Homo sapiens: one gene and its partner. The protein of the gene in region 1 purifies or fractionates together with the protein of each later gene. This does not show direct contact. Each region holds a gene or a part of one and is shown in the gene's direction. Other genes may lie near its edges. The genes, in order: ZNF35 and ARIH1.

Evidence for each region.
Region 2: the proteins of ZNF35 (region 1) and ARIH1 purify together in Homo sapiens (affinity purification with mass spectrometry; 2 studies listed by BioGRID and IntAct, with this or other methods). This does not show direct contact.

What each region holds. Positions count from the first base shown.
Region 1 is NC_000003.12:44,658,508-44,661,375, forward strand, and holds the end of ZNF35 (zinc finger protein 35), read left to right. Parts: intron 1-193; coding exon 194-1,440; 3' UTR 1,441-2,284; downstream 2,285-2,868. UniProt on the Homo sapiens protein: May be involved in transcriptional regulation. Involved in cell differentiation and/or proliferation.
Region 2 is NC_000015.10:72,575,174-72,582,481, forward strand, and holds part of ARIH1 (E3 ubiquitin-protein ligase ARIH1), read left to right. Parts: intron 1-5,557; coding exon 5,558-5,818; intron 5,819-6,901; coding exon 6,902-7,014; intron 7,015-7,308. UniProt on the Homo sapiens protein: E3 ubiquitin-protein ligase, which catalyzes ubiquitination of target proteins together with ubiquitin-conjugating enzyme E2 UBE2L3.

The sequences.
Region 1 (2,868 bases):
TAGGTAGAGGGGAGGGCAAAGCCCCAGCTGAAGAACCTAGAGAGGAGAGGTAACATGTGATGGGATTCTCTTCTTTGATGAAGCCATTTTGTGGAGGTGCTGAAATCACATACTTCGTTTTATGACTTGATGATCCTATTCTTTTTCTAGGCCAGAGAAAGCTAACATTTGTATTTTCTGTTTCTTGGTTCAGGTGCTGAAACCAAGAACCTACAGTTACTGGTTCCAAAAACTGAGATATGTGAGGAAGCTGAAAAACCCCTCATCATATCAGAAAGAATCCAGAAAGCTGATCCTCAAGGACCTGAGTTAGGAGAAGCTTGTGAAAAGGGAAACATGTTAAAGAGGCAGAGAATAAAGAGAGAAAAGAAAGATTTCAGACAAGTGATAGTGAATGACTGTCACTTACCTGAAAGCTTCAAAGAAGAGGAAAACCAGAAATGTAAGAAATCTGGAGGAAAATATAGCCTTAATTCTGGCGCTGTTAAAAATCCAAAAACCCAGCTTGGACAAAAGCCTTTTACGTGTAGCGTGTGTGGGAAAGGATTTAGTCAGAGTGCAAACCTCGTTGTGCATCAGCGAATCCACACTGGAGAGAAACCCTTTGAATGTCATGAGTGTGGGAAGGCCTTCATTCAGAGTGCAAACCTCGTTGTGCATCAGAGAATCCACACTGGACAGAAACCTTATGTTTGCTCAAAATGTGGGAAAGCCTTCACTCAGAGTTCAAATCTGACTGTACATCAAAAAATCCACTCCTTAGAAAAAACTTTTAAGTGCAATGAATGTGAGAAAGCCTTTAGTTACAGCTCACAACTTGCTCGGCACCAGAAAGTCCACATTACGGAAAAATGCTATGAATGTAATGAATGTGGGAAAACATTTACTAGGAGCTCAAACCTCATTGTCCACCAGAGGATCCACACTGGGGAGAAGCCCTTTGCCTGTAACGACTGTGGCAAAGCCTTTACCCAGAGTGCAAATCTTATTGTACATCAGCGAAGCCATACTGGTGAGAAGCCATATGAGTGTAAAGAGTGTGGGAAAGCCTTTAGTTGTTTTTCACACCTTATTGTGCACCAGAGAATTCACACTGCAGAGAAACCTTACGACTGCAGCGAATGTGGGAAAGCCTTCAGTCAGCTCTCTTGCCTTATTGTCCACCAGAGAATTCACAGTGGAGATCTTCCTTACGTGTGTAATGAATGTGGGAAGGCCTTCACATGTAGCTCATACCTACTTATTCATCAGAGAATTCATAATGGAGAAAAACCTTACACATGTAATGAGTGTGGGAAGGCCTTCAGACAGAGGTCGAGCCTCACCGTGCACCAGAGAACCCACACTGGGGAGAAGCCCTATGAATGTGAGAAGTGTGGTGCAGCTTTCATTTCCAACTCACACCTCATGCGACACCATAGAACCCATCTTGTTGAATAACAAGTAAGGAAGAGGAAGACCTCCAGCATTGGTCATAACCTTCTGCCTCCCTAATGAGACACCTCTTTGCTGTTTTCTTCCTCCTCTATAAAAGTGAGGGCTGTGTCCTTAAAAGTTATAGTTTTCAGGAATGCAGCAGAAGACACAAGAAAAGCATTTCAGAGGCTAATTTAAAACAAAAAGTAAGCACCTAAAGGCAAGGACTTTGTTTTAACTGTACCTTAAGCGGTCATGTTCTCTGAAGTGGAATGTGGCTTTCCTAGGAATGGGTCGTACAAAGCTAAGTGGTAATGATGCTATTTGGGGAAAGGTCTTTTTTGCTTAATTTTGTTTTTTAAAACTCTGATGATTGCTTGAGCAACAGGCAGGTTATCTGCCTGGTTGAATTCTGGTTGAACCGTGTATTCTAATATTTCTGGTTAAGTGGTGACTGGGTAAGGAAACCACTTGGGGTAGCAGTTCAACAATTCACTTACGAATGTTTATAAGCTTTCCATTTCCTAGGTAATTTTTTAAAAGCCAGTCAAAACAAAAACTTTACTGAAAATGGACAGAAATAGGAAATGGACTTTTTCCTTACTGTCTATACCTCCTGAACCTTGGTATTGTAAAGATCTGGGGACCTCTGGGTCTGTTCTGACCATTCCCTAGTCTCCATGGCCAAGCACTCAAGGATTGATGGACACCACACACCAGCTATATTCATTTGCCAAGATCAACAGCTCCTTCTCCAAACAACTCAAGCCCCCAATTCCCATCGCATTCCATTTGGGTGAGATGCAACTAACAGCCCCTTCCTGGATGAAGGAGTCAAAGAATAAAGCTTGCCTAGAGGCATGCCCCAGTTGTCTCTGCTGTCATTCTGCTCAAGTCCAGCCAGGGGTCTCAGTTTGGGTTTCATTCTCACATTCTGGATGGTGTTTAGAAGAAATAGTGGAGCTCTTCTCATTCTGAGAAGACCAAAGAGGGAAAGTGATGGGAGAGGGGAGGTGGAAATAAGATTCCTAAGGTCTTAATTTGATTTTTTGAGAAATTCAGAGGTATTGGAATATGAAAAACTTTTAGAAGGATGAAGAAACTGGCCAAGGTAAGATATCTTTGTTACCATTCAGCCTTTACTCCTGGAAAAATGATTTATAAAACTATGCAATAGGTAGAGTTATGTAATAATATTGCCTTGTATTTATATAGAACTTTTATTCTTTGTTGTGTACCCTTATGTATTGATCATGATACCTGGCACGTATCTCACGCTTTCACATAGATCACCTACCTCAGTCCTTACAACACTGAAACAGGTGGTTGCCCATTTACCTGAGAATGGTCATTTAGTGCAAGGCCAAGTAACAAGTGACAGCTTATATCCAAGTCCAGGTCCTGAATCTAGATTCTCTGTTCTGCCATGCCACTTGCCAAACACCTGTAATC
Region 2 (7,308 bases), on another chromosome or scaffold:
GTTTGTATACCCCTGTTCTAAGCAGTCAAGTTTGTTGTCTTTTCCACGCTCCCCAAACTGCTTTCAGGTCGCTGATTACATTTCTCATTCCAGATTCTGGCATTTGATTGGAGAATTTGTCTTGATCAGGCTCAGTGGCTCACGCCTGCAATCCTAGCACTTTGGGATGCTGAGGCGAGAGGATTGAGTGCGGGAGTTTGAGATCAGACTGGGCAACAACTGAGACCCTGTCTCTACAAAAAATTTATTAAAAATTAGCCAGGTATGGTAGTGCACGCTGGCTGAGGTGGGAGGATCACTTGAGCCTGGGAAGACTTCAGTGAGCCATGGTTGTGCCACTGCACTCTAGCTCAAGCAACAGAGCAAGACCCTGTCTCCAAAAAAAAAAAAAAAAAAAAAAAAAGTCTTATTAGCAGTGATGGTATGGGTGTTCTTTTTTCATGTTGAATTTTAGTGAGAAGCAGTTTCAGAATTCTTAGATTAAGTCAAGTCCCATAACATCATACATGTCAATATGGTAAGGGAGGGTTTTCATTTCATTTGGGGAACTTGACAGGCTTGGAAATATTAGTACTTTAGGGGAAGATAAAATGCCAAGCAGATTTTCCACATATTTTCAGATTGGCATAATTTTCCTGTTCATAAGCATTGGTTTGATACTTACCTGACTCTTGAAATAACATGGCTGTGGTTTTGTTGTTTTTTCATTGAGATGAGGGTCTCGCAGTGGCATGATCATAGCTCACTGTAGCCTTGAACTCCTGGGCCCAAGTGGTCCTCCTGCCTCAACCTCTGCATTAGCTGGAACTAGAGGCAGCTTGAGGTGTGCACCACCGCGCCCAACTTGTGTTGGTTTTTTGAAGTGTTTCGTTGTATAATGCTGGATCATGTGGTTAGCTAATTATGTGGCTCAGAATTAGTATTTCTAAGCAAGGGACCAACCATAGGGCCAAGTAGTATCTGTTATGTAGGCTTTAAAACATGGGGAGAGAAAGAGGAGGTAAGGATAAAGGAAAAGAACATACGTGTGTTAGGAACCCCTTTGATAGGGGCCGGGCGCGGTGGCTCATGCCTGTAATCCCAGCACTTTGGGAGGCCGAGGCGGGCGGATCACAAGGTCAGGAGATGGAGACCATCCTGGCTAACACAGTGAAACCCCATCTCTACTAAAAATACAAAAAAATTAGCTGGGCGTGGTGGCGGGCACCTGTAGTCCCACCTACTCCAGAGGCTGAGGCAGGAGAATGGCATGAACCCGGGAGGTGGAGCTTGTGGTGAGCCGAGATTGTGCCACTGCACTCCAGCCTGGGTGACAGAGCAAGACTCTGTCTCAAAAAAAAAAAAAAAAAAAAAAAAACCCTTTGATAGTGGTTGCATTTAGTAAGCATTTATTAATGGTTTTCTGCAAATCAGGTATTGGAAATACTTTATCTTTTTAAAAGTCCATTCCCTCTAGAGATTTATGGTATAATGGTAGAGGCCTCATATGAATAATTATATATTATAATGTAATAATACAAAACAAATCTAAACTAGATACATTGTTGCTTTGATAACAATATACTTTACATATCTCTAAAGACAGACTCTCTTTACATAACTGTAATACCATTACAGTTGACTCTTGAACAATTCAGGGGTTAGGGACACTAACCCGCCCTACCTCCGCAATGGAAAATCCACATACCACTTTTGATTTTCCCAAAACTTACCTGTTTTAATAGCCTACTGATGACCAGAAGCCTTACCGATAACATAGTCAATTAACACATATTTTGTATGTTACATGTTTTATTATACTGTGTGCTTTTTTTTTTTTCTTTTTTTGAGACGGAGTTTGCTCTTGTTACTCAGGCTGGAGTGCCAGTGGCAGGTCTCAGCTCCCTGCAACCTCCACCTCCCGAATTCAAGCGATTCTCCTGCCTCAGCCTCCCAAGTAGTTGGGATTACAGACATGCGCCACCATGCCTGGCTAATTTTTTTGTATTTTTAGTAGAGACGGGATTTCATCATGTTGGTCAGGCTGGTCTTGAACTCCTGACCTCAGGTGATCCACCCACCTCAGCCTCCCATAATGCTGGGATTACAGGCGTGAGCCACTCACTGTGCCTGGCATATACTGTGTTCTTAACAATGAAGTATGCTAGGAAAAAAGTTATTTTAAAAAATTGTGAAGAAGAGAAAATGTGTTTACTTTTTATTAAGTAGAAGTGGATCAGCCGGGCCCAGTGGCTCACGCCTGTAATCTCAGCACTTTGGGAAGCTGAGGTGGGCAGATTGCCTGAGGTTGGGAGTTTGAGACCAGCCTGGCCAACATGGTGAAACCCTATCTCTACTAAAAATACAAAAATTAGCTGGGCGTGGTAGCAGGCGCCTGTAATCCGAGCTACTTGGGAAGATAAGGCAGGAGAATCACTTGAACCCTGGAGGTGGAGGTCGTGGAGAGCCGAGATCGCACCATTGCACTCTAGCCTGTGCGACAGAGTGAGACTCCATCTCAAAACAAAAAACAAACAAACAAAAAAACGGATCATCATAAAGGTCTTCAAGTTGAGTAGGCTGAGGAGGAAAGAAAATACAGGAGGGCTTGGTTTTGCTATATCTCAGGTGGCAGAGGTAGAGGAAGTCGAATGGGATTCAGGAGATGCAGGCACACTTGGTGTAACTTTACAGGAAAACCTTACGAACCGTTTTGCATTTTCATTTCTCTAAAAATGTTTCTGTATAGTAACAATCCTCTTTCCATTTGCTTTAGTTTCAGTGCTGGTATAATAGAAGGGTCCATTCATAAAGGAAGTCCAAAGCAGTCTTAAGTAATCAGAACCCTTCTGCCAAATTGTCTAATGTCAATTTATTTTCTGGCACTGCTTCTTTAGTGTCTTCTTCCTCATCATCTGGCACTGGTTTGGAAGCAGCTCATCTCCATCAAGTGGTCTTTTAATTCCTCTGGTGTGGTGTCTGTTAGCTAACCCTTCACCTTCCACGTTTTCTTTGCCATATCCACAGTCTCTTTCGTGATTTCCTTGATGGGCTCTGTTGTAGATACTGCGAAGTCACGCGCAACATCTGGACACAGTTTTCTCTACCAGGAGTTTATTGTTTCAGTCTTGATGATGCCATGGTTTTTTCTATAACAACGATGACATCTTCAGTGGTGCTCTCCTTCCAGACTTCCATGATGTTCTGTGGGGGTTCTCTTCGATAGCATTGACAGTCCCTTCCAGAGTACCGTGTGCATCTTTACGTTTGTTTACATTTCTCTCAATGTGAATGGTACCATATACGGTCTGTAAGAGTTTGTGTGCATAAGTTTTGATAAATCTCAACTTTTTATTAATAGATTTATGTATATTTTATCGTAGTAAATCATAAGATAGGCTACATATGTCTTATGCATTCATGACAACTCTTTTTCTTAATTTTGGTTTGTCCGCAAGTGTTTTCAAATTGTTGGCAAACCTCCAAAAAATATTTCAATATATTTATTGAAAAAAATCCACATATAAAGTAGACTTACAGTTTAATCCTGTGTTGTTCAAGGGTCAACTGTATATGTTTTAAAGCAATACTCTGTTGGTATCAACTATCTATTGTTCAAATATCCCCAATTATCTTAAATTTTGCTTTTTTTTGTTTTTTGGTGTTTTGTTTTTTTTTTTCAGAGGTAGAGTCTCGTTCTCTCCCCAAGGCTGGAGTGCAGTGGTGCAACTCGGCAATTCTCCTGCCTCAGCCTCCCAAGTAGATGGGATTACAGGCACATGCCACCACGCCCAGCTAATTTTTTGTATTTTAGTAGATACAGGGTTTCACTGTGTTGCCCAGGCTGGCTCAAACTCCTGAGCTCAGGCAATCCACCCGCCTCAGCCTCCCAAAGTGCTAGGATTACAGGCATGAGCCACCACACCCAGCCTATCTTAAATTTTCTTTTATAGTTGGTTCAAATTGGGATCCACATAGGTCCACAAATTGGATTTAATTGATATCTCTTGAGTCTCCTCTACCTGTTGTTCCTTCTCTTCCCCCCTCCTTGCTTTTTTTTCTTTGTTGAAGAAACTAGATCGTGTTGTCCTGTAGAGTTTCCCACATTATGGATTTTGCTGGTTGCAACTGCATGGTGTCATTTAATAGGTTCTTCTATCCCTGCATTTTCTGCACTGGTGATTAATTCAAGAAACTTGATCAAATTCAGATTCAGTGGTTGGGGGGGGAGCCCAGAATACTTAATTGATTATACTTTCTATTGTATTATATCAGGAGTTACATGGTATGTAGTTGCCACTGTAGTTTTCTACTTAAAAATATCTCTGCTTTTTGCTTGTTTTACATCTTGTGGCATACTGTAGAACAGTGCCATCCAGTAGAACATTTTTGTAATGATGTAAATGTTCTTTATCACCAGTGTCTAATTTGGTAGTCACTAAGCACATGTGACTATTGAGCGATGAGGAACTGAATTTTTAGTTTCTTAAATTGAATTTTAAGTAGTCAGGTGTGGCTTGTGGCTACTGTATTGGAAAGTACAATTAATAGGACATTTTTCAAGAGTATTAAATAACAAAAGTAGCAGTAGATGTCTATTCCTGATTTTAGCCTAGATCACAGTACTGTTTCATCAGTAAATCAGCTTTTTAAATTATTAATATTTTTAATGGACAAATCATAATTATACACATTTATGGAGTACAGTGGAATGTTTTGAAATATGTAAACAATGCAATGATTAAATCAAACTAATTGTTGTATTGCCTTGCCTTAACATTTTTATGGTGAGACATTTGAAATGATACTTATTTTGAAATATATATTATTATTGACTATATTCACCCTGTTGTGCAATAAATCTCAAAACTTACTCATCCAGTCTATCTGAAACTTTGTACTCTTTGGTCACCAACTCCCCATTCCCTCCCTTCCTACCCCTCTATCCCCGCAAGCCTCTGGTAACCGTCATTATACTCTGTATGTCTGTGAGTTCAACTTTTTTAGTTTCTACATATAAGCGAGATCATGTAGTATTTCTTTTCTGTGCCTGGCTTATTTCACTTAGTGTAATGTCCTCCAGGTTCATCCATGTTGTCACAACAGAATTCCTTTTTTGAGGCTGAGTACTCGTGTGTGTGTGTACATACATGACGTTTTCTTTCTGTGTTCATCCATTGATGGACACTTTACATGGATTCCATGTCTTGGCTATTGTGAATAATGCTGTAGTGAATGTGAGAGTACAGAGATACCTTTGACATACTGATTTCAATTCCTTTTCATATATACACAGTAGTGGGATTGCTGGATTCTGTGGTGGTTTTGTTTTCAGTTTTTTAAGGAACCTCCCCATACCATTTTCCATAATGGCTATACTAATTTACATTCCCATCAACAGTGTATCAAGAGTCTCCTTCTTTCTTTATCTTTGCCAAGACTTATCTTTCATCTTTTTGATAAAAACCATTCTAACAGGTGTGAAGTGAGACTTCATTATGGTTTTAATTTGATAATCAGCTTTTATGTACAGTTTATGTGTTATAATTATATCACCCAATTTTTCTTAATGGGACAGCGATCTAGGGCAGCCCTGCAGAGGTACCTGTTCTACTGTAATCGCTATATGAACCACATGCAGAGCCTGCGCTTTGAGCACAAACTATATGCTCAGGTGAAACAGAAAATGGAGGAGATGCAGCAGCACAACATGTCCTGGATTGAGGTGCAGTTCCTGAAGAAGGCAGTTGATGTCCTCTGCCAGTGTCGTGCCACACTCATGTACACTTATGTCTTCGCTTTCTACCTCAAAAAGAATAACCAGTCCATTATCTTTGAGGTAGGAGTAGTTCTGGGTGAGGAAAAAGCCCACCTTGTATCATAGGTCTACCTGATCTTTCATATATAAGATACAGAGTTTTCAGGGTTCTTGTTTGTTCAGAACATGTAGGTAGACGAATGTATTTATTACAAAGATACAAGAAATTTCTATTTCTTGTCCTAAATTATATTCAGATCGATGTGGTTTAGCCAGCTAGTGATTAGGTATGCAGGTTCTGGAGTCAGCCCTAGATTTTAATCTTTACTTCATTATGTTTTAGCTCTGTTGATTTGGAGCAAATTCCTTAACCTCTTATTTGTCCATTTTAAAGTGAGGATAGTACCTTTCTAGGTTGTTATGAGGTTTAAGTGAGACAATTTGTGTTTTATGTGAGACAATTTGTGTTAATTGCTATACGGCACCTGGAACATCATAAGTTCTCAATAAAAGCCTTTATTCAGGCTAAACTAACCCTGCAATATTAGAAGTTAATGTGGTGGTTATCTTTAGTGGAGAAATAATGACTAAAAAGCCAGCTTTTAGCAGTAAAGGTTTTCTCAAGTAAAGATGTTCATTTAAAATTGATGCATAAAACATTGATATCTGTATATGACTAGACAATAAGACTGACTAGCAGATGGGACTTCAGTTGGGTAACAGGTACAAAACTAGCCATAGTGGTAAAGGATGATACAATTTGAATCTTCCATACAGTGTTTTCTTATAAGAAATAAGTATAGCCAGATGTAAGCAATAATAGGTTTCTATTTTTTCTCATTTACCTTTGAGTTTTCAGCAAAGAGCAGCTCTCAGAACGAGAAGATTCCAAAAGACATTTTAAATCCTTTCAAATGGTCTTCAGTATTCTTCCAAAAGTAATGGGTGAAATCTTTCGTTCTTTTAACATTTAAAAAATTGTTCTGGAAAAGAACAAACAAGTTATTAGAGATGAAAGCCCATAGAGCTTTACAGGTGCAGTTAAACCACCTATGAAAGTTACAGAATGAGTGTTGAGAGCAGTCTGTAGTCAACAAAACAGTGAAAATGGTTTATCTTTTAGCTTTATTTTGAAGCCAAAATTTACTTTCATTCTTCTTACAGAATAACCAAGCAGATCTAGAGAATGCCACAGAGGTGCTCTCGGGCTACCTTGAACGAGATATTTCCCAAGATTCTCTGCAGGATATAAAGCAGAAAGTACAAGACAAGTACAGGTAATTTTTTTTTAAGCTGTTGAATAAAACTTTCTGCCAGTGATGATCCTTACTGGTAAAGTTCAGTGATAGTGAAACTGGGTTTAGCATATCCAGCAACTGAGCTTTTGCCATGTTTCTCACAGATTGCTTCTGTCCGTTGGGCACTAAATTGCAGGTAATAGTATTGGTGAAGCATACATAGAGAAGGAATTCAGCCATTTATTCTATTGGCTAATTCCACTTCTGTTCAGTTATTTAGTTGCTACCTTGCAAGGAAGAAAGAATCCAAAAAGGCCAAGTGGCCTTTAGGAT